2 separate regions of the Homo sapiens genome follow, and region 2 is linked to region 1. Evidence: fine-mapped expression QTL. A gene starts in region 1. The other region holds a variant in brackets. All regions are shown on one strand. Distances are from middle to middle. Region 1 holds the start of KLF17 (KLF transcription factor 17). Region 2 overlaps LOC124904169 (a long non-coding RNA gene).

Evidence for each region. PIP is the estimated chance that this variant, and not a neighbour inherited with it, causes the effect.
Region 2: its variant is the best candidate, but not a certain one, in a credible set for the expression of KLF17 in fibroblasts (GTEx, PIP 0.62).

Annotation. Positions count from the first base shown.
Region 1 is chr1:44,114,653-44,124,428 of GRCh38, reverse strand. It overlaps KLF17 (KLF transcription factor 17), which reads right to left and starts at 5,608. Exons shown (of 4, transcript NM_173484.4): 1 at 5,441-5,608. The coding sequence starts at 5,521. It also overlaps the pseudogene RN7SL479P and the pseudogene LOC100129492. RefSeq lists an enhancer at 4,295-5,062 and a promoter at 5,631-6,619.
Region 2 is chr1:44,045,597-44,055,372 of GRCh38, reverse strand. All of the region lies in intron 2 of LOC124904169 (a long non-coding RNA gene), which reads left to right. It also overlaps a transcript of KLF17 not described here. Among named protein-coding and RNA genes, the nearest start is that of SLC6A9, 19 kb to the right of the region's middle. The variant C/T (reference allele first, on the strand shown) is at 5,600.

The DNA of each region.
Region 1 (9,776 bases):
GAACCCAGGAGGTAGAGGTTGCAGTCAGCTGAGATCCAGCCACTGCACTCCAGCCTGGGCAACACAGCGAGACTCTGTCTCAAAAAAAAAAAAAGAATATATACAAAAGGAAATTGTGTTTTAAGGAAATGTATTTTCACTACAAAAAAAAAAATCAAACAAAAAGACAATGCTGGAAATGAGGAAAAGAATGGCAGAATTAAATCATTCCTTGAAAGTAAAATACTTTGGAAAGTAAATGGATAATACTTTCCAAAAGACAATTTGGCAGAATGGATTAAAAACATGATCCAAATATATGCTGTATATATATTTAGATCCAAACACCACAATAAACCAAGTAGATCTAACAGACATACACAGAACACTCCACTCAACAATAGAATATCCATTCTTCGAAAGTGTTCATGGGACATTCTTCAGAAGACCATATAGTAGATCACAAATTAAGTCTCAATAGATTTCAAAATAAACTTTTCTCTTGCCGCTTTTAGAAAAAAATAAAAAAAAAAAGGTATCATACAAAGTATCTTCTCTGACCCACAACCAGATAAACTAGAAAATTTACAAATCTGTGTGGAAATTAAATAGCACTCTCTGAAACAATCAATGGGTCAAATAAAAAAATCACAATGAAAATTAGAAAATACTTAGAGACCAATAAAAATGAAAACATAACTATCAAAACTAATGGGATAGATACAGCAAAAGCAGTCATAAGGGGAAAACCTACTGGTTTAAATGCTTTCAGTAAAAAAGATCTCAAACCAACAACCTAACTTTATACCTTAAGGAACTAGAAAAATACACTAAACCCCAAACCAGCAGAAGAAAGGAATGAAAAAAATCAATGAAACTAAAAGTTCTTAGGAAAGATTAACAACATTGCCAAACACTTAGCTAGATCAACTAAGGAAAAAGAAAAGACTCAAATGATTGAACATGAGAAATGAAATCGGGGACATTATTACCAATTTTACAGAAGTAAAAAGGATTATAATACAATATTATGAAAAATTGCACACCAACAAATTGGACAACCTGGATAAAATGGACAAATTCCTAGAAACACAAAACCTATCAAGACTGTTACAGGCTGAGCATTTTGAGACTACGAAGCAGGTGGATCGCTTGAGGCCAGGAGTTCGAGACCAGCCAGGGCAACATGGTGAGACCCCCCATTTCTACAAAAAAACCCTAAAAATTGCCAGGTATAGTGGCAAGTGTCTGTAGTCCCAGCTACTCCAGAGGCTGAGATGTGAATGGTGCGATCAATCATGGTTCATTTTGGGCTGGAATACAGTGGTATGATCATGGCTCACTGCAGCCTCACGTGACAAAAGCTCAGCTCTTATCCTAACTTTGAAGATTGCTAATAGAAGTGAATAAATTAAGCATTTATTCTGCCTCTAAAAGAAAAAAAAATTCAAAATTACCAAATAATTGCAGTTAAATATTACTTCCTACTTTACAGAAGAATACAAACTAATAAATGTAGAATGAATGGTGGAATTAGAAAATTTATTTTGCTGCCAGGTGCAGTGGCTCATGCCTGTAATTCTAGTACTTTGGGAGGCCAAGGGGGGTGGATCACTTGAGGTCAGGAGTTCAAGACCAGCCTGGCCAACATGGCAAAACCCTGTCTCTACTAAAAATACAAAAAAGTAGCCGGGCGTGGTGGTGCATGCCTGTAATCCCAGCTACTCGGGAGGCTGAGGCATGAGAATCGCTTGAATTTGGGAGGCAGAAGTTGCAGCAGTGAGCCAAGATCGTGCCACTGCACTCCAGCCTGGGGGAGAGAGTGAGACTCTATCTCAAAAAAAAAACCAAAAACGGCCATTCATACTGCAGTCGGTCAGTATTCGGTTGTTGGATTCAGTGTGCTATCGGACCCAAAGGGTGATGGCACCGCTAGGATGAAGCTCGTGAGATTTTTGATGAAATTGAGTCATGAAACTGTAACCATTGCATTGAAGAACAGAACACAGGTCCATGGAACAGTCACAGGTGTGGATGTCAGCATGAATACACATCTTAAAGCTGTGAAAATGACCCCGAAGAACAGAGAACCTGTACAGCTGGAAACGCTGAGTATTCGAGGAAATAACATTCGGTATTTTATTCTACTAGACAGTTTACCTCTGGATACACTACTTGTGGATGTTGAACCTAAGGTGAAATCTAAGAAAAGGGAAGCTGTTGCAGGAAGAGGCAGAGGCAGAGGAAGAGGAAGAGGACGTGGCCGTGGCAGAGGAAGAGGGGGTCCTAGGCGATAATGTCTCTCAGGATTACTGTTTCAAAGTCATACGGGATTTGGGATATTTTTTGTACAGGTTGTGTTTATGTCAGTTTTTAATAAACATAAAAGTGGGACAAAAAAATGAAAAAAGGAAAAGACATAAAGGAAAAGGAAATTTATTTTGCCATCCCTAAGGAAATTTAATTGAGGAAAAATTTAAATTTGGTGTTAAAACCAGTAGGTGAATGGCTGGTAGGGAACTGGACACTGGATACACAAAAGGCAGAATCACACAGATTACTTTCTGACCACAAGGTAAATTTCTACAGAGAGATCAATGAGGCTTTTCGCTACCTTAATACAAGTATCACCAAATGGTAGCCAGATGTGTCTCCTGATGTAATGCAAGATGAAACCTACCATACACATGAGGCATTCTTGCCAAAAATCTTGAATCCAGTTAAGCTGTAAGATCTAATCATAACTTAAAGGTAATACAAGTGATAGAAGATAAAGCTAAATGTTATCATGAGGAAGCAATCTGATATATCGGAAAGGAACATTCTATAAGACAAAAGTTAGCATCATGAAAAACTGAATCCCAATCATGAAAAAATAAAACTATTCTAATTTCAGAGACTCAAGGGACATAATCACCAGATACAGTGTATGGTCTTAAATTCTGGTTTGGACGTACCAGCTACGAAGTACATTTTAGGAATAGCTAGGGGCATTTGAATAAGGCTTGCATCTAAGATAATTTAAAGGAATTATCGGCTGGGCGTGGCGGCTCATGCCTGTAATCCCACCTCTTTGGGAGGCTGAGGCGGGTAGATCATTTGAGGGCAGAAGATTGAGACCAGCCTGACAAACATAGCAAAATCCCGCTACTAAAATTACAAAAAATTAGCTGGGTGGAGTGGCACACGCCTGTAATCCCAGCTACTTGGGAGGCTGAGGCACGAGAATTGCTTGAACCTGGGAAGCGGAGGTTTCAGTGAGCTGAGATGGTGCCACTGCACCCCAGCCTGGACAACAGCACCAAGACCCTGTCTCAAAAGAAAGTGTATATATATATACAATTTTGATACGTTTGATTATGTGGTTTTGGCTATAGAGAAAAATGTTCATTTTTTAAAAAAAACTCTAGAAGAGTTGGGAAGATCTTGTTTTATTTTTTATTTAATTAATTTTAGAGACAGGATCTCACTATGTTGCCCAGGCTGAAGTGCAGTGGCTATGCCCAGGTGTGATCGTTGTGGACCACAGCCTAAAACTCCTGAGCTCAAACGAGCCTTCTGCTTCAGCCTCCTGGGCTGCTGGGACTACAGGTGTGAGCCACCATGCCCAGCCTTATCTGTTTTATTTACCACTATATGCTCAGCAACTAGCATAAGACAGACATATAATAGGAACTAGGTAAATGACTATTGGGTGGGCACCTCTGGGGTGCTCAGCCTCTCCTCCCTAACTCTCAGCAATGGCCCTCTTGTTTTCCCAGTCCTTCATGGCAAATTAAGTTGTCTAAACATGCCTTCACCACTACTTTGCCTTATGAGTCTCCCAAATTTGCTCTGGCCTCTATCTCTCCACAGAACCAGCTTTCATAAAGGTCACCACTGATGACTTCCATCCCACTATGACCAAGCAGCACTTTCCAGACTCCTCGCTTGAACTCTCAGGAGCTTATACGACCACTGGCCACACCCTTCTTAGAATGCTTGGCCTCTCTAACACGCATGGCCACACTTTCCAAGTTTTTCTCCTTCCCTTCTCTCAGACCCCCTCCTTCACAGTTTCTTTTGCAGATTTCCCTTTCCCTGCTCTCTCTGGGCAAGCTTCCCCATGCCAGTGGTTTTGTTTCTGTTTACAGTCCAACTATTCCTAAATCTGGAATCTTCGCTCTGGCGAAGATGGCTCCTGAATTTTCCAGCTACCTATTGTTTGAGTCCTTTCGGATGGCCCACATGCTCTTCTAATGGACTATGGCCAAAATTCACTAGCATCTTTGCCCACCTCCCTCAAACAACAAATTAATCTTGTCCTTCTCATCCTTCACTCTCTCTCAGAAAATGTCACTATTGTCACCCAATTGTGCAAGCAAGAAATCTGTTACTCTAGATGTCTCCCTCACCACCCGGGGACCAATGATTGTGGTCTCTGCCTCCAAAACATCTCCACAATCTATGATATATTTAGCTTCTCCATCTCCACTCTCACTTCTGCAGGTAGGCCGCCATTTGAATTCTCACCTGGATTATCACAAAAGCTTTCTAACTGTTGCCTTGAATCCAGCCCACATCCACCAGGGCACTCCTTTGAAAATGCAAATCTAATTGAGACAGATTATGTTTAAACTCATCAATGGCTTCCCACTGTTCTTGGAATAAACAAGCCCTGAATGATCTCAATGGTGTCCCTGGGGCCACCCTTCCATCACTGTCTAGGCCCTGGTCTTTCAGTTCCTCCTAAGAGGAAGCATGCAGCCTGTGGTCTCAGACCTGGGAACCTTTCACCTGACGGGTTCTTTAGTCCCAGAACAGAGTCTCAGCTGTCTCCTAAGCCTCCCAAATCGGGTCAAACACCTCTGGTATCTGCTCCCACGCGCCCCTGACTTCTTCTTCATGTAACGCTGTACAATTCCAATCATTCAGTTAACGATTTATTCATACAATTTTATATATATCTGTTTCATGGTAAATTCATCATTGTATTTCCAGGGTCTGGGAAAAGCCTACCACTTAGTAGGGCTCCAATTAACATTTTTGGGGTTTTTTTTTTTTTTCCTGTTGTTTCCTGCTCACTTCCTAACTTGGTCTTTGCTGTCCTGCCTACTCAAGTCCCTCACCAGAAAGTTGCCTAGAACCCTCTTACCCGCCACGCGGCCAACACAAGCTCTACTGCTGGGCGAACATTGTTGGAATAAACGACGTATGATTTACACCCTCAATCTCACAACCCTCCCTTTCCAATCCCTCCCCAGTCTCCCATCCCTCCCTTTGCAACCCCTCCCCAATCTCCCATCCCTCCCTTTGCAACCCCTCCCCAATCTCCCATTCCTTCCTTTGCCACCCCTCCCCTCGGATTTCTACCCCTCGGGTTTCTGCTTCCCTCCGCCTCACCTCTCCTCCAAGGCCTCCCCTCCCCGCCGCCCCCTAGCCTGGGCCCGCCCGGCCTGCCAGGGGCTGGCACCTGACTCACCTGGGCAGCCTGGTGCGCCGCCTGCCACCGGCTCAGCTCCCCAGCCTCCTGTTCCATCTCAGCCTGCGGTCGGCCGTACATGAAGACTGGGTGGGGTCTAGACTCTCTACTGAAGAGACAGGGAACCAGCCACCACGGCGTCGCAGGCGGGTATCGGTACATCGCCACGCCACAATCACCTTCTATTTACCTATTTACAGCTGCGCCAAGGGGCGGGGTCAGGCCCCACCCGTCCCGCCCTGCGCCGCCCTCGCAGCCCTGCCCCAGGCTGCCACCCACCCTCACCATGCCCCAACCAAGGCAGCCTCACGGACAGCCAGCCACTTCAGGCCTTGAACGCTTCTTAAAGGAATTTGGTCCGCCCACCCAACCGACCCATTCCACCCCTCAGTCTGAGCAACTGTTTCACCCAAGTGGGGACTGAGGACACCCAGGTCTCCAACTCCAGCCAGGAGGAGGCTGGAGAGAGAGGCGAGGCTGGAGAGAGAGGCAAGGTTGGGTGTAGGGCCTCTACCGATAGGAGAGCCTCCACCAGCACTCTCTCAGGTCGGGATCTTGCCATAAGCTTTGGAAGGGCTGGAGCTTTTCTGCTACAGTCTGTGCACCTCTGTCCCTTGTCTGTACGAACTGAAGACTGGGAGCTTCATGGCACAACCTGTTTATTCCGCAGTGTTTACTGAGTGCCCCGTGTGTGTTGGGCACTGATCTCTGAACTAGGGGTAAAATAGTAAACAGGACAGAACAAAGTCCTTGCTGTCAATTTCCATCTTATACGGGAAGACAAGAAATGAGTAATAAAGTTGTTAACTATTATAATTTTAGGTGGTGGTGAGTGCTATGGAAAACCAAAACAGAAATGTGAGCTGAAAATGAAATGCCTGAAAGGAGCCAGCCATAGGAAGATTGAAGGGCTCTAAGGCAAAAAAGAGCCCAACGGTGCTAGAAGGAAATTGAAGGCAAGGTGACCACGGTGATACCACATGGACAGTGACACGAGGACAGAGGGATAGGGCCTTGAAGACCATAGAAAGGAATTTGGATTTTATTCTAAGTGTGGCGGGAAGCCACTGATGCTTTTAAACAGGAATTTGATGTGATCTGATATATGTTTTTAAAATAAACCATTTGGCTCCTTATGGATTATAAAGGGCCAGAGGGGTGCAGAGACACCAGTTAGAAATCTAAAGGAGATGAGGCTGGGCGCAGTGGTTCACGCCTGCAACGCCAGCACTTTGGGAGGCTGAGGCGGGCAGATCACTTGAGGTCAGGAGTTTGAGACCAGCCTGGCCAACATGGTGAAACCCCGTCTCTACTAAAAATAAAAAATTAGCCAGGCGTGGTGGCGCGTGCCTGTAATCCCAGCTACTCAGGAGGCTGAGGCAGGAGAATCGCTTGAATCCGGGTGGTGGAGGTTCCAGTGTGTCGAGATCGCGCCATTGCACTCCAGCCTGGGCAACAAGAGCAAAATTCCGTCTCAAAAAATAAAATAAAATAAAATATAAAATAAAATAAAATAAAATAAATAAAATAAAATAAAATAAAATAAAATAAATAAAAAAGGAGCTGTCCAAGAAAGAGATGTCAGTGTTTGGTCATGGAGGTGGTGCCCACCTGTAGTCCCAGCTACTCAGGAGGCTGAGGCGGGAGACCACTTGAGCCCAGGAGGTCTGGGCTGCAGTGTGCTGTGCTGATTGGGTGTCCACACTAAGTTCAGCATCAGTATGGTGAGCTCCCAGGAGTGGGGCACCACCAGGTTGCCTAAGGAGGGATGAACTGGCCCAGGTCAGAAATAGAGTAGGTCAAAACTCCTATGCTGATTGGTAATGGGATTACTACACCTGTGAATGGCCAGTGCACTCCAACCTTGGCAACATAGTGAGATCCCATCTCTAAAAAAAAAGAATGAAAAACAGAATTTGTAATGGATCAGAAGGGGGTAGGGAGGGAGGGAAAGAGGAATCAAAAAGGCTCCTAGATTATTGGCTTGAGCAACTGCATGATGATCGTGCCACTTGGTATATGGAAAGATAGGAAGAGGAGCAGATTTGGAGGCAACTGAAACAAGAATTCCATTTTAGACACTGATTTTGAGATGTCTATTAATTATGCTCAGAGAAGGTCAGGGCTGTAAATGTAAACTTGGGTGTTGTCAGCATAGAGATGGTAGTTAGAAGGCCATTAGAGTGGATGCTATCAACACTGGAGATAGTTTGACAACAGGACAGAGGACAGAGCCTGGGGACTCCTACATTTAAGGCCCAGCAGAACAGCAAAGTCATCCAAAGAACCTGAGAGGTTGAAATAAACAGGTAAGTGACTACTGGATTTGGCAAGACGGAGGTCACTGGTGACTCTGACAAAACCAAGTGCAGTAGAAAGGAAGCCTGATTGGACTGGGCTGCCAAGGGAAGAGGAGTTGATGGAGTGGGACATTATCTCTAAACTCTAAACAAGAAGTTTTGCTACGAATGAGAGCAGAAAAATGAGGTGGCAGTTAAGGGAGGGCATGTTATAGGCTGATGGGGATGCACCAAAGGAGAAACTGATATAGAAACAGAGGGCTCAATTATAAGAGCAAAGTCATGGATGAATCAAGAAAGGACAGGATCTGGAGTACCAATAGACAAGTGGGCCTTTAGTGAGAGCAGGGACATTTGCTCTATCATAACAAGTGGGGTAAGAAGGCTCTTATGTATCTTAGGGTCCCCAACTACTAGTATGGAGTGGGGCTGAGAGCAGGCCCTTGAGAAATGGTGGCTATGATTCTATGGCTAACAATGGCTCAGCTCTCAACTCCAGGATCACCTCCTCCTGGGGCCATCTCTGACTCCCATTTGATGCCTCTTTCAGTTCCCACATACCTAGTGTTTCTCCCAACATGGCATTTAGGAAATATTTGTAGAATGGATCATGTTTGACACACAGAGCAGATCATTTTTATACCCCCCTCCTCTAAAAATAAAATTATTTCCATAATTCAAATTTCATATTTTCAAATCATCATAAAATGAAACAAATCATAATAATGGCCAGAAAAAGGAAAGGCAAAAGTGAAAAATTTATTTGCCAAAATTTGTATGCATACTCACATCATAAAATAAATACATAAAATTAATATTATGGCTCCAAAAAATGAAAAAGGCACAACTATTTATTTCAATCATTTTCACATCTACCTGTTTAAATTTTGATCCTTTCTTTACAATCTGATATACTCCCTTATGTAAATGGTCATCCAGCAACCAACAAGCAAATTTTAATAAAACCAAAGCATCTAAATAAGATACAATTTAGGCAATAATACTTAGGCTATAACATTTATTTCCTTTATTCATCTTTCATTTTAAAACCATTAACAAGTATAAAGGAATAGGTTTTCATTTCAAAGGTAAATTTTTATTCAAATTCAGTAACATATTTCATGTACAAATTAAAAATTTGCACTTAACAAACAAAAATGTTTTGCCTCTCAGTTTGCACTCTGTCCCACTGGTTTTTGTTTTTTTTTTGTTTTGGTTTTTTTTTTTTTTTTTTTTTTGACACAGAGTCTCGCTCCATTGCCCAGGCTAGAGTGCAGTGGCGCGATCTCGGCTCACTGCAAGCTCCGCCTCCCGGGTTCATGCCATTCTCCTGCCTCAGCCTCCCAAGTAGCTGTGACTACAGGCGCCTGCCACCACTCTTGGCTAATTTTTTTGTGTGTGTGTATTTGTAGTAGAGACGGGGTTTCACTGTGTTAGCCAGGATGGTCTCGATCTCCTGACCTCATGATCCGCCCACCTCGGCATCCCAAAGTGTTGGGATTACAGGCATGAGCCACCGCGCCTGGCCTGTCCCACTGTTTTAACACAAAAGTCCAACTGGTTACATAGAATGACAGAATTGAAAAAAGTCAAGCCCTGTTTGTCTTTGTCATCACTGACAGTAACTCATGATTGTTTATTCTGAATCTACAGTGTAAACTTGGATGTGTCTAATACCACAGGGGTAGGAGATGTGACCCTTGCCTAAAGTGAGCTCCAAAGATGGGTATTGGTGTGACTATATAACCAAGCATTCTCCAAATGAACTTCCACATAGAATGCAATATTTATTAAAGGATCGCTAATAAAAATGTGTTAGTGTGAAGTTTACATGTACAAATAAAATTCAGTATCTACAGCAATTATTTAGAACTTAAACCAACAAAAGATTTTTTAGGAGAGGAGTATTTCAACAGTATTTAAAAATCACTGGCACACAGCAATAATAAAAGGCAGACCAACTTTTAGTTGGATCTATTATTGTTAAGCTCTTTATAGATATGCACCCCTTCTAGCCTGCATGTGGACAGACTGCT
Region 2 (9,776 bases), 69 kb after region 1:
ATCAATCCCTGTTACTGTACAAGAGCAGGAAGACAGAGGCCCTGAGAAATGGGTTACAACTGAGTAGGCTGCTCCCATGTCCATTAAGAACCCAGTATTTTTGCCTGCCGTGTCCAGGGTTACCAAAGACTCCTCTATGGAGATGGTAAGGTGTCCAGTAGGAGTTGTAGAGGACCGCAGGCCCCATCAGTCCTATGCTTTCTTGGCCATTATGGATCTGGGTGTCTCAGACTCCCCTTTAAGCCTGGGACAGTCCTTCTTCCAGTAGCCTTCTTGTTTACAGAAGGCACACTGGGCCAGGCATGGTGGCTTATACCTGTAATCCCAGCACTTTGGGAGGCTGAGGCGGGTGGATCACGAGGTCAGGAGATCAAGACCATCCTGGCTAACACAGTGAAACCCTGTCTCTACTAAAAATACAAAAAATTAGCCAGGTGTGGTGGCACACACCTGTAGTCCCAGCTACTTGGGAGGCTGAGGCAGGAGAATTGCTTGAACCCAGGAGGCAGAGGTTGCAGTAAGCCAAGATCAGGCCACTGCATTCCAGCCTGGGTGACAGAGTAAGACTCCGTCTCAAAAAAAAAAAAAAAAAAGCTGGGCACGGTGGCTCACGCTTGTAATCCCAGCACTCTGGGAGGCCAAGGCGGGTGGATCATGAGGTCAGGAGACTGAGACCATCCTGGCTAACACGGTGAAACCCCGTCTCTATTAAAAATACAAAAAAATTAGCCGGTCATGGTGGTGAGCGCCTGTAGTCCCAGCTACTTGGGAGGCTGCGGCAGGAGAATGGCATGAACCCGGGAGGTGGAGCTTGCAGTGAGCTGAGATCACACCACTGCACTCCAGCCCGGGCGACAGAGCAAGACTCTGTCTCAAAAAAAAAAAAAAAAAAAAGGCACACTGATTTGATTTTTGCCTAGAGTCCAGCAAGTGGTGGGACTCTCATCTAAGCATCCCAGACACTGATCTTCCCATATTTTCCTGGGGTGGGTAACCCTGAAGCAGCAGAGGGCCTAAAGCAGCCACTAACAATTGTGATTTTTTGGCCAACTTTTTGGCTTTTGCCTCTTCCTCTGCCTTGTCCCTGTTGTTGTAAACCCTAAAAGCAACGTCTAAGGGTTGGCTCATGGGGGCCCCATTGCTACCTTTTGTAGCTTCCTCCTGATGTCAGGGGCAGATTGAGTGATAAAATGCACACCCAGGAGAACCCACCCTTCTGGGGAGTCTGGGTCTGCATTAGCATATTTCCTGAGTGCCCCAAGAAAACGGCCCTGAAATAGAGCAGGGTTTTCATCTTTGTCCTGAGTTATTTCTCTCACCTTGTCATAACTGACTGGCTTAAGCACACACTTTTTCATGTTAAACAAATTAGCCTGTGATTTCTGCATTTAAGATCTTGAGAACCTGTCTAGTAATCCAATTGAGAGCCTAGATCTGGAATTGCATCTCCTCCCACACGATATGGCATGGCCTGGGTTGGGTGGCTACTCCATCTGCATGTTCACGGACAGTATCTAGAATTCTTTGTTTTTCCTCTACAGTACAACAAGTGGATAGTAATATTTGCATGTCATGCCAAGTTAAATCAAAGAATACGCTCAACTTAACAAACTCCTCTGTAAACTTCCCAGGATCCTCTAAAACACAACCAAATTTTTCCTTGCATAAAGCCAAATCAAACATGAAAAAGGCACATATCTTGTGGTTGTTCCTCCATGCCTGTCAGCTACCTCTCACAATGGACACAGGTCTAATTTTGGCAGCTGATATGGGGCCCAACTCCTGGTAGTACTGGTTGGGTTTACTTCCTCCGGCAGTAGGGGATATGGGCCAGGACCTGTTGGATAAAGGGGAGGGATGCCTGCTGACTTTGAGGTGGAATTCTGCACTAGAGAAGTGGTGTCCTCCCCCCCCAGAACTAGGGGACTGGAGAGGCTTCAAAGTGGGGACACAGGCCTCATGGGGGAACAGCTAAGAGAAGGTCATCTACAATACCTGATGTGCTTCTGGGTGGCTGGGAGTATCATAAGCCAGACATGTTCTACAGCTAGCCCTTAAGATCCTGGTAGATGGCCAGAAAAGCCTGCACATAAGGGACTTCTTCCCATTTTCCTTCCTTTTTACAAAACAAATTCTAATTGTACAATATCATTATAACATAAAGAATCATGAGGCCGGGTGCAGTGGCTCACATCTGTAATCCTAGCACTTTGAGAGGCCAAGGCAGGCAGATCACTTGAGGTTAGGAGTTCGAGACCAGCCTGGCCAACATGGTGAAACCCCATCTCTACTAAAAATACAAAAAATTAGTTGGTCATGGTAGCCTGCGCCTGTAATCCCAGCTACTTGGGAGGCTGAGGCAGGAGAATCGCTTGAACCAGGAGGCAGAGGTTGTGGCAAGTCGAGATCTTGCCGCTGCACTCCAGCCTGTGCAACAGAGTAAGACTGTCTCAAAAAAAAAAAAAAAAATCCTGCCTAGGCCACATCTGTTGGCTTGCCAATTTATATAGAACCTAAACATTGTTGCAACAGAAAATAAATTTTTTCTTTTTCAATTTGTCTAATTTGAATTTACTCCAATTGCCTAAAAGACACCCTCACGTCAAGTCCTTCAGGATGCTCTCTGCTGCCCCATGTCTAGTAAGGCTCTCTATGGGGGTTTTAGTGACCTAAGCTTAGCAAATGCCTAGTTACTTTTCCCTTTTAAATTCCCACTTTGTACAAAGAAGGTGTAAATATAGACAGCAAGGTGTTATAAAAGTGGATTATAAGCTGCAAATGGGAAACAGAATGTTGGCCTAAATTCCACAGAGAGTGAGGGTTAGGCAGAGAGAGACTAAACAAATGGTGACAGTGGAAGGGAAGAAGGGCAGGGGTAAATAGCATTGCCCAAGGGGAGACCTCAGGGGCCCTCACTGCCAGAGAACCTACCCAGTAGGAGAGACACCAAAAACAACGTTCAGGTGGCCACTTTTCTACTGCTGTTGGTGGCTGTCCATCAGGGGCCTGGGAACTCCCAGTCCCCTTCAACCAAGAGGGCTTAAGCAAGACAGTTATGCAGTTGTAAGACAGCACACAGGAAGAGGTCTGCAACTGGCTATTAGGAAAATAATAACTTCTAACTTCAGAGCAGAAAAAGGCAAGACCAAGATTCCCCTAGGGGAGAAATAGCTTTTTCTACCTTACCTGAGGATTGAGGTCTCCAAGAGTGAAGATGACAGGTAATGCCTAAGGCTCAGGAAGCCTGCTGGGTCACTTTAGCTGTGAAGGAGGTTCTGTTATCACTGAGCAGACTTCTAGGTAACCCAAACCTTGCAATGATCTCTTTAAGTAAGAATTTGGACACTTCTAATGCCTTTTTCTGTTCCTGTGGGGAAAGCCTCTATCCACTCAATGAAAGAGGGAATGTCAATGCCGAAAACCCCAGAGCATTTTCAGCAATACCAATGCTGAAAAACCTGGAGTACCTGAGTTTCAGCCAACAAGGGTCCCCTCACCAAATGCTGAAAACCCCAGGGCACCAGGGGGTTGGCCAACAGCAAACCTCAGGCCAAGTTGGAGGTCACAGAACAACACAACAGGAGGCCTTGCATGGCCAAGTGTCCTGCCTTAAATCATTCCCCAAATTTAGTCAACAGAAAATCAAAATGAAAACAAAGACTGCCAACAAAACATACATCTTAGGACTGAAAATAAAACGACTGGTGGAGCAATACAATGGAGTCAGAGGGGAAACAATCAGGGAAAAGGGTGACAAGGACAAGGAAGTGTTTAAGGGTATCCAAATGATGAGGGACTTTTAACTGACCTCTTAGCCAAAGGCTTTAATTCCTGAGCTTACCTGATGTTATTGGGGTGGGGGTGGGCAAAACACTCACCCATCCACAGGAGTCAAAATGGTGCTGGCCAATCTTCCACGTGGCACCCAGGTGAAGGTCTCTTCAGGATCCCCCAGCTTGGATGTGCTCAGCTGCCATGGTGGGAGGGTCCCACGTGAGGACTGATAACCCACCAGCCTGCCGGATCCTACATGAGGCAGTAGCAGTATGGCCACTTACTTGCCTGTCTGCTTGGCTGTACCACCTGCCAGGGAAAACGATGATTCTAAAAAGAGCCTTTGGTTAGTGTTACAACTCTTGCAGCCTCCATCACTGACTGCTTCTCTATTTCTTGCCATCTCTCCATTTGTCATCTTAACAATAACTGTCACTTGCCATCTCTTGCTGTCTCTCACTGTCTTGCCAACTGCTGTCTCTCATTACCACCTTGCCAACTGGCCATTTCTTTCTCCGTCTCTCATGCTGTCGTTTTCTCTCTTCTGCCGCATGTTTGGTGCCATGTTGCTGCAAGGCAGGTGAACCCCAAATTGGGGCTTAGCCCAAGAAGATTCTTGGTTTTGCTCGGGAAAGAATTGAAGAGTGAGCTGGTGGTAGAAGAAAACAGGATTTTTTTTTTTAAGACGGAGTCTCGCTCTGTCGCCCAGGCTGGGGTGTAATGGTGCGATCTCAGCTCACTGCAACCTCCGCCTCCCAGGTTCAAGCAATCCTCATGCCTCAGCCTGCTGAGTAGCTGGGATTACAGGTGCACACCACCACGCCTGGCTAATTTTTGTATTTTTAGTAGAGACAGAGTTTCACCATATTAGCCAGGCTGGTCTCAAACTCCTGACCTCAAGTGATCTGCCCACCTTGGCTTCCCAAAGTGGTGGGATTATAGGTGTGAGCCACTGTGGCCGGCCAAGAAAACAGCTTTATTGAGGAGGCAGTGTAGTGTTAGGGATCTGTGACTGCTCCTGCACAGCAGGGCTACCCCATAGGCAGTGTGTAGAGAGTAGCAGCTCAGGGCAGCTCGGCAGTCATGTTTATGCCCACTTTTAAGTACATGCAAATTAGGGGTGGATTATGCAAAAATTTCTAGAACAAGGGTGGTAACTTCCCAGTTGTTGGGTCACTGCCATAGAAAGGGGTGGTATCCAGTTGTTGCCATGGCAATAGTAAACTGACATGGCACTGGTCAGCATGTCTTTTGGAGAGGTGCTTTTGCCTCTTCCCCTTTCAGCTAGTCTCAATCTGGTCCGGAGTCCAAGTCCTGCCTCCTACCTCATTGGCAGTGGTGTGCTGGTAATTATTTTACAACTGGTTAAGAAAGAAACTCTGATTTGTAAAAGTTGCCAATTTCTGTGGTGTAAATAACTTTTATCATTGCTGAACTCACACATTGCTGGTGGCAGCATAAATTGGTAAAACCACTTTATAAAACCATGCGATGCTATCTACTAAAGGTGAAGATATGCATATGCCAGGAGACAGTAACTGTACTCCAAGATGTACAGTATTTCTCAACTTAACCGGACATCCTGAATCACCCCAGGCATGAATCCAATTCTGTTGGGAGAGTTACTGGCTATGCATTCTTTTCCTACTTAAGTCACCTTAGTCTACTCCAAAAGATACACATTATTTGAAACTGAAAAGCTAAAATGGATAAATTATTATATATTCATGCAATGGAATAGTATACCACAATGGAAATGAACATGCTACTATACATAACAGCACAGATAAACCTTATAGATTGAAAACAATACATAGGCCGGGTA[C/T]GGCGGCTCACGCTGGTAATTCCAACCCTTTGGGAGGCCAAGGTGGGTGGATTTTCTGAGTCCAGGAGTTAAAGACCAGCCTGGACCACCTGGTGAAACCCCATCCCTACAAACAATACAAAAATTAGCCAGGCATGGTGGCACATGCCTGTAGTCCCAGCTATTCAGGAGGCTGAGCTCAGAGGATTGCTTGACCCTGGGAAGCAGAGGTTGCAGTGAACTGAGATCGTGCTACTGCACTCCAGCCTGGGTGACAGAGTGAGACCTTCTCTCAAAAAGAAAAGAATATATACTGTATAATTCTAACTATATGAAATTCAAAAACAGGCAAAACTCTATGTGGTTAGAAGTTAAGCTAGTGGTCACCTTGGGGAGGGCAGAGGGCTGGGATTGGGAGGTAGCACAAGAGAGGCATCTTTACTGGATGGTTATTATTATGAACTAAATGTTGTGTGCCCCCCAAATTCATGCACTGAGTCCCTAATCCCAAATGTGGTGGGATTAGGAGACGGGGTCGTTGGGAAGAAATTAGGTTTAGATGCGGTGATGAGGGTAGGGTCCTCATGATGGGATTAGTGCCCTTATAAGAAGAGACCAGAGAGCTTGCTCATGCTCTCTCTACACTGTGAAGACACAGTGAGAAGGCAGTCATCTACAAGCCAGGAAGAGAGCCCTCACCAGAACCCAACCCCGCCAGCACCTTGATCTTGGACTTCCCAGGCTCCAGAATTGTGAGAAATAAATGTCTGTTGTTTAAGCCACCCAGTCTGTGGCATTTTGCTATAGCAGCCCCAGCAGACTAAGACAGTTATGTTTACACAAATGTGTTCAAGTTGTGGTGACGCATTAAGCTATATGCTTATGATTAATGCATTTTTCTGCACGAATGATTTACTCCAATAAAAAGCTTATTAAACCCAATGCACTGTGTACACACATAAAAACAAAGAAAACTAATCATTATCAAACTAAATCAACTTTGCAACACCTCTAATTTGTAGATAAATCTTACTGTGTTCAAAAATTAAGCAAATTACACTGTGGCCAGTCAAACACACAGAAAATTTCACCAAGAGAAACTTAGGTTAATAATAAAACAATTTATTTATGTACTTAGGAGATCCCATCCAAACATAAAGAATATTTTCTAAAGCCCCAAATATTCATTTGTAACCAACTAGCTTAAAACCCAGTCATATCAAAGAAAGTCTCCAGCTCAAAACACAAAAAGAGTGCAGTACCTTCTCCAAAGAAGAAAAACACACATTTTAAGACAAAAATACTCACCATTAAGCAGAAACCTCTGACTCATCTGTTCTTATCTTCCTTCCCATAAAGCCCTTTTATTTCCCCACTCTGACAAAAGCGTCCTTTTAGCTCACTGTGGGGAGGAAGTCTCACAGTCTTCGGTCTGCTCTGAGTGAATGAAGGGGATCAGTGGAATCAGTATTTCCCAGCTTAACTGGACATCCTGAATCACCCCAGGCACGAATCCAGTTCTGTTGGGAGAGTTACTGGCTATGCGTTCTTTTCCTACTTAAGTCACCTTAGTCTACTCCAAAAGAATCGGAAAGTTCCTACCTCCAAGCTTTGGTTTTCTCACATTTTTTCATCTCTCTGGGCCATTGCCATTAGCTACTCCCACATTTTGCCTCTGTAACCGTTTCCTTGACTTCTGCATGGTGAAGTTAGGAGAAGCTACACAGCCCCCAACACATACGTGCGTGCACGTGCACACACACACACACACACACACACACACACACACACATACACACACAATGTTCTCTTATGGGCCCACTCTCCAAACACTCTGGATGCCAATCTTCCCTTTTCTGGATTCAGCCCACCTTTATTGGCCACATCCAGTAAATAATACTATGTAAATTCACAAAGTGTCCACTAGAGGACACTACAATCCTACTTCTAATGCCAATGTGTTGCAGTATGGCGTCTGTAGACTCCTAAGGGATTCTTCCTCTTCCCTATCTAAGCTACCCATGTGTTTCTATCTAATTATTCCTTGTACCAGGCACCTAAGAAGGAAATAGGTGATATGAACAAGGAAGGAAGTAGCACCCCGACTCGTGCCCTCATTCTCAAATCCTTGGTCCCAGGGCAGGATGCTCTCACGATCTAAGCATTCTTTCCCTCAAGATGGATGTGACTGATGGCAGATGGGCTACTAGTGATGTTGATGTCACTGTGCCGGGTCCCCAGCAATGCTCCAGGGGAAGCCAAGAGTTGAACTGGGCCTCAGATCATCAACCAAACCTCAAGCATTTATCAACCATGGCAGCCCCATCTCATGACCAGGCTGGAGCCTGTCTGGACCTGGTTCTTCTGGTTCCCACCATCTGTCCTCCTCCTCCCTCCCTACCACACCACCCTTTACCCCAGGACCAGTGCTTACGGTTCTCTCTCCTCAAAGTCATCAGATCAAAATTCATGACCAACCTCTCATTAGCCCACTCAGAGGAATGGGTGGCTCAATGCTATGAGTACAATTGCTCCATCTTAGGAAAACAAAAATGGGCAACCCTTTGCAAAGAAAACATTTCTATGACCAAAGCTTACTGACTAATACAACATTACTTCTTCTTGTACATTTTAAAATAAAAACAAGCATATCTAAACATAATATTTTCTAATCACAGGAGGCAACAACAACAAAGTAAGCATAAATACTTTCAAGGACATGTCTGTAGCCTAGTACAGAGAATGCTTTTTTTTTTTTTTTTTTTTTTGAGACTGAGTCTTGCTCTGTTGTCTAGGCTGGAGTGCAGTGGCACGATCTCGCTCGGCTCACTGCAGCCTCCGCCTCCCTGGTTCAAGCGATTCTCCTGCCTCAGCCTCCTGAGTAGCTGGGATTACAGGTGCACACCATCACACCTAGCTAATTTTTGTATTTTTAGTAGAGACCAGGTTTCACCATATTGCCCAGGCTGGTCTTGAACTCCTGACCTCAAGTGATGCAGCTGCCTCTCGGCCTCCCAATGTGCTGGGATTACAGGCGTGAGCCACTGTACCCAGCTAAGAATGCATATTTTTAAGCCAGACTGCCTCAGATCAGATTCTAGATTTGCTATTTACTAGCCACATGGACTTGAACCAGTTACTTAACCTCTGCACATCCATTTCCTGAGCTGTTAAAATGAAGAACATATAGTATCTACTTCATAGGATTGTTGTGAAGATTAGATGAGTGTGTGTGTGTGTGTGTGTGTGTGTGTGAGTGTGTGTGTAGTGCTTAGGTTGGGCGTGGCAGACCATGCCTGTAATTGCAGTACTTTGGGAGGCCAAGGAAGAGGACTGCTTGAGCCCAGGAGTTCACGACTAGCCTAGGCAACTCCAGCAGACCCCGTCTCTACAAATAAAATTTTAAAAAATTAGCCAGGCGTAGTGGCATGCACCTGTAGTCCCAGCTACTTGCAAGGCTGAGGCAGGAGAATCACTTGAGTCCAGGAGGTCAAGGCTGCAGTGAGCCGTGATTGCCCCCACAACACTCCAGCCTGGGGGACAGAATAATGAGACTCTGTCTCAAAAAAAAAAAAAAAGTGCTTAGAACTGGCCTGGTACTAGTAAGTACCCAATGAATGTATGATAGCTATTATTATTATTATTATTATTATTATTATTATTATCCTTTACCAAATCTTGTGGATGAATTCTTCATACACAGGCTGACATCTGTTTTATTTTTCTTATGTTCCATGATAAGCTCATCCTAAATAGAATATTAAGAAATATTAAGAAAACGTCTACATACACCAAGACTGGGTGACAATGATTGTGTTAGGAGGGTCTGGAGGGCACAGATCTGACACACTACCTAGTGACAACATTGAGTTATGTGCAGCTTAGTTATGTGTGATATGTGTGATTCTGTGTTGCTGATGGTGGTGTCTAGAGAACATTGGATGCAAATGACTGTGGGAGGGACACATTCTGGATGAAAATGGGCTCAGGGCTAAACTGGGGTCAAATAGTTTGGGGATAACACTGGGTTGTGTGTGAAAGTATGTTGAGAAAGCATTTGAGTGAAATAGTGTTGTGGGTAAGACCAGGCCTGGATAAAACAAAGTTTTTGTGACAATGGTGTTGGGCAGTGGGTGCTGGCAACTGTTTAACTATTGCCTCTTCAAGAAAAACAAGACATTGATTTGCAACGTTTCCA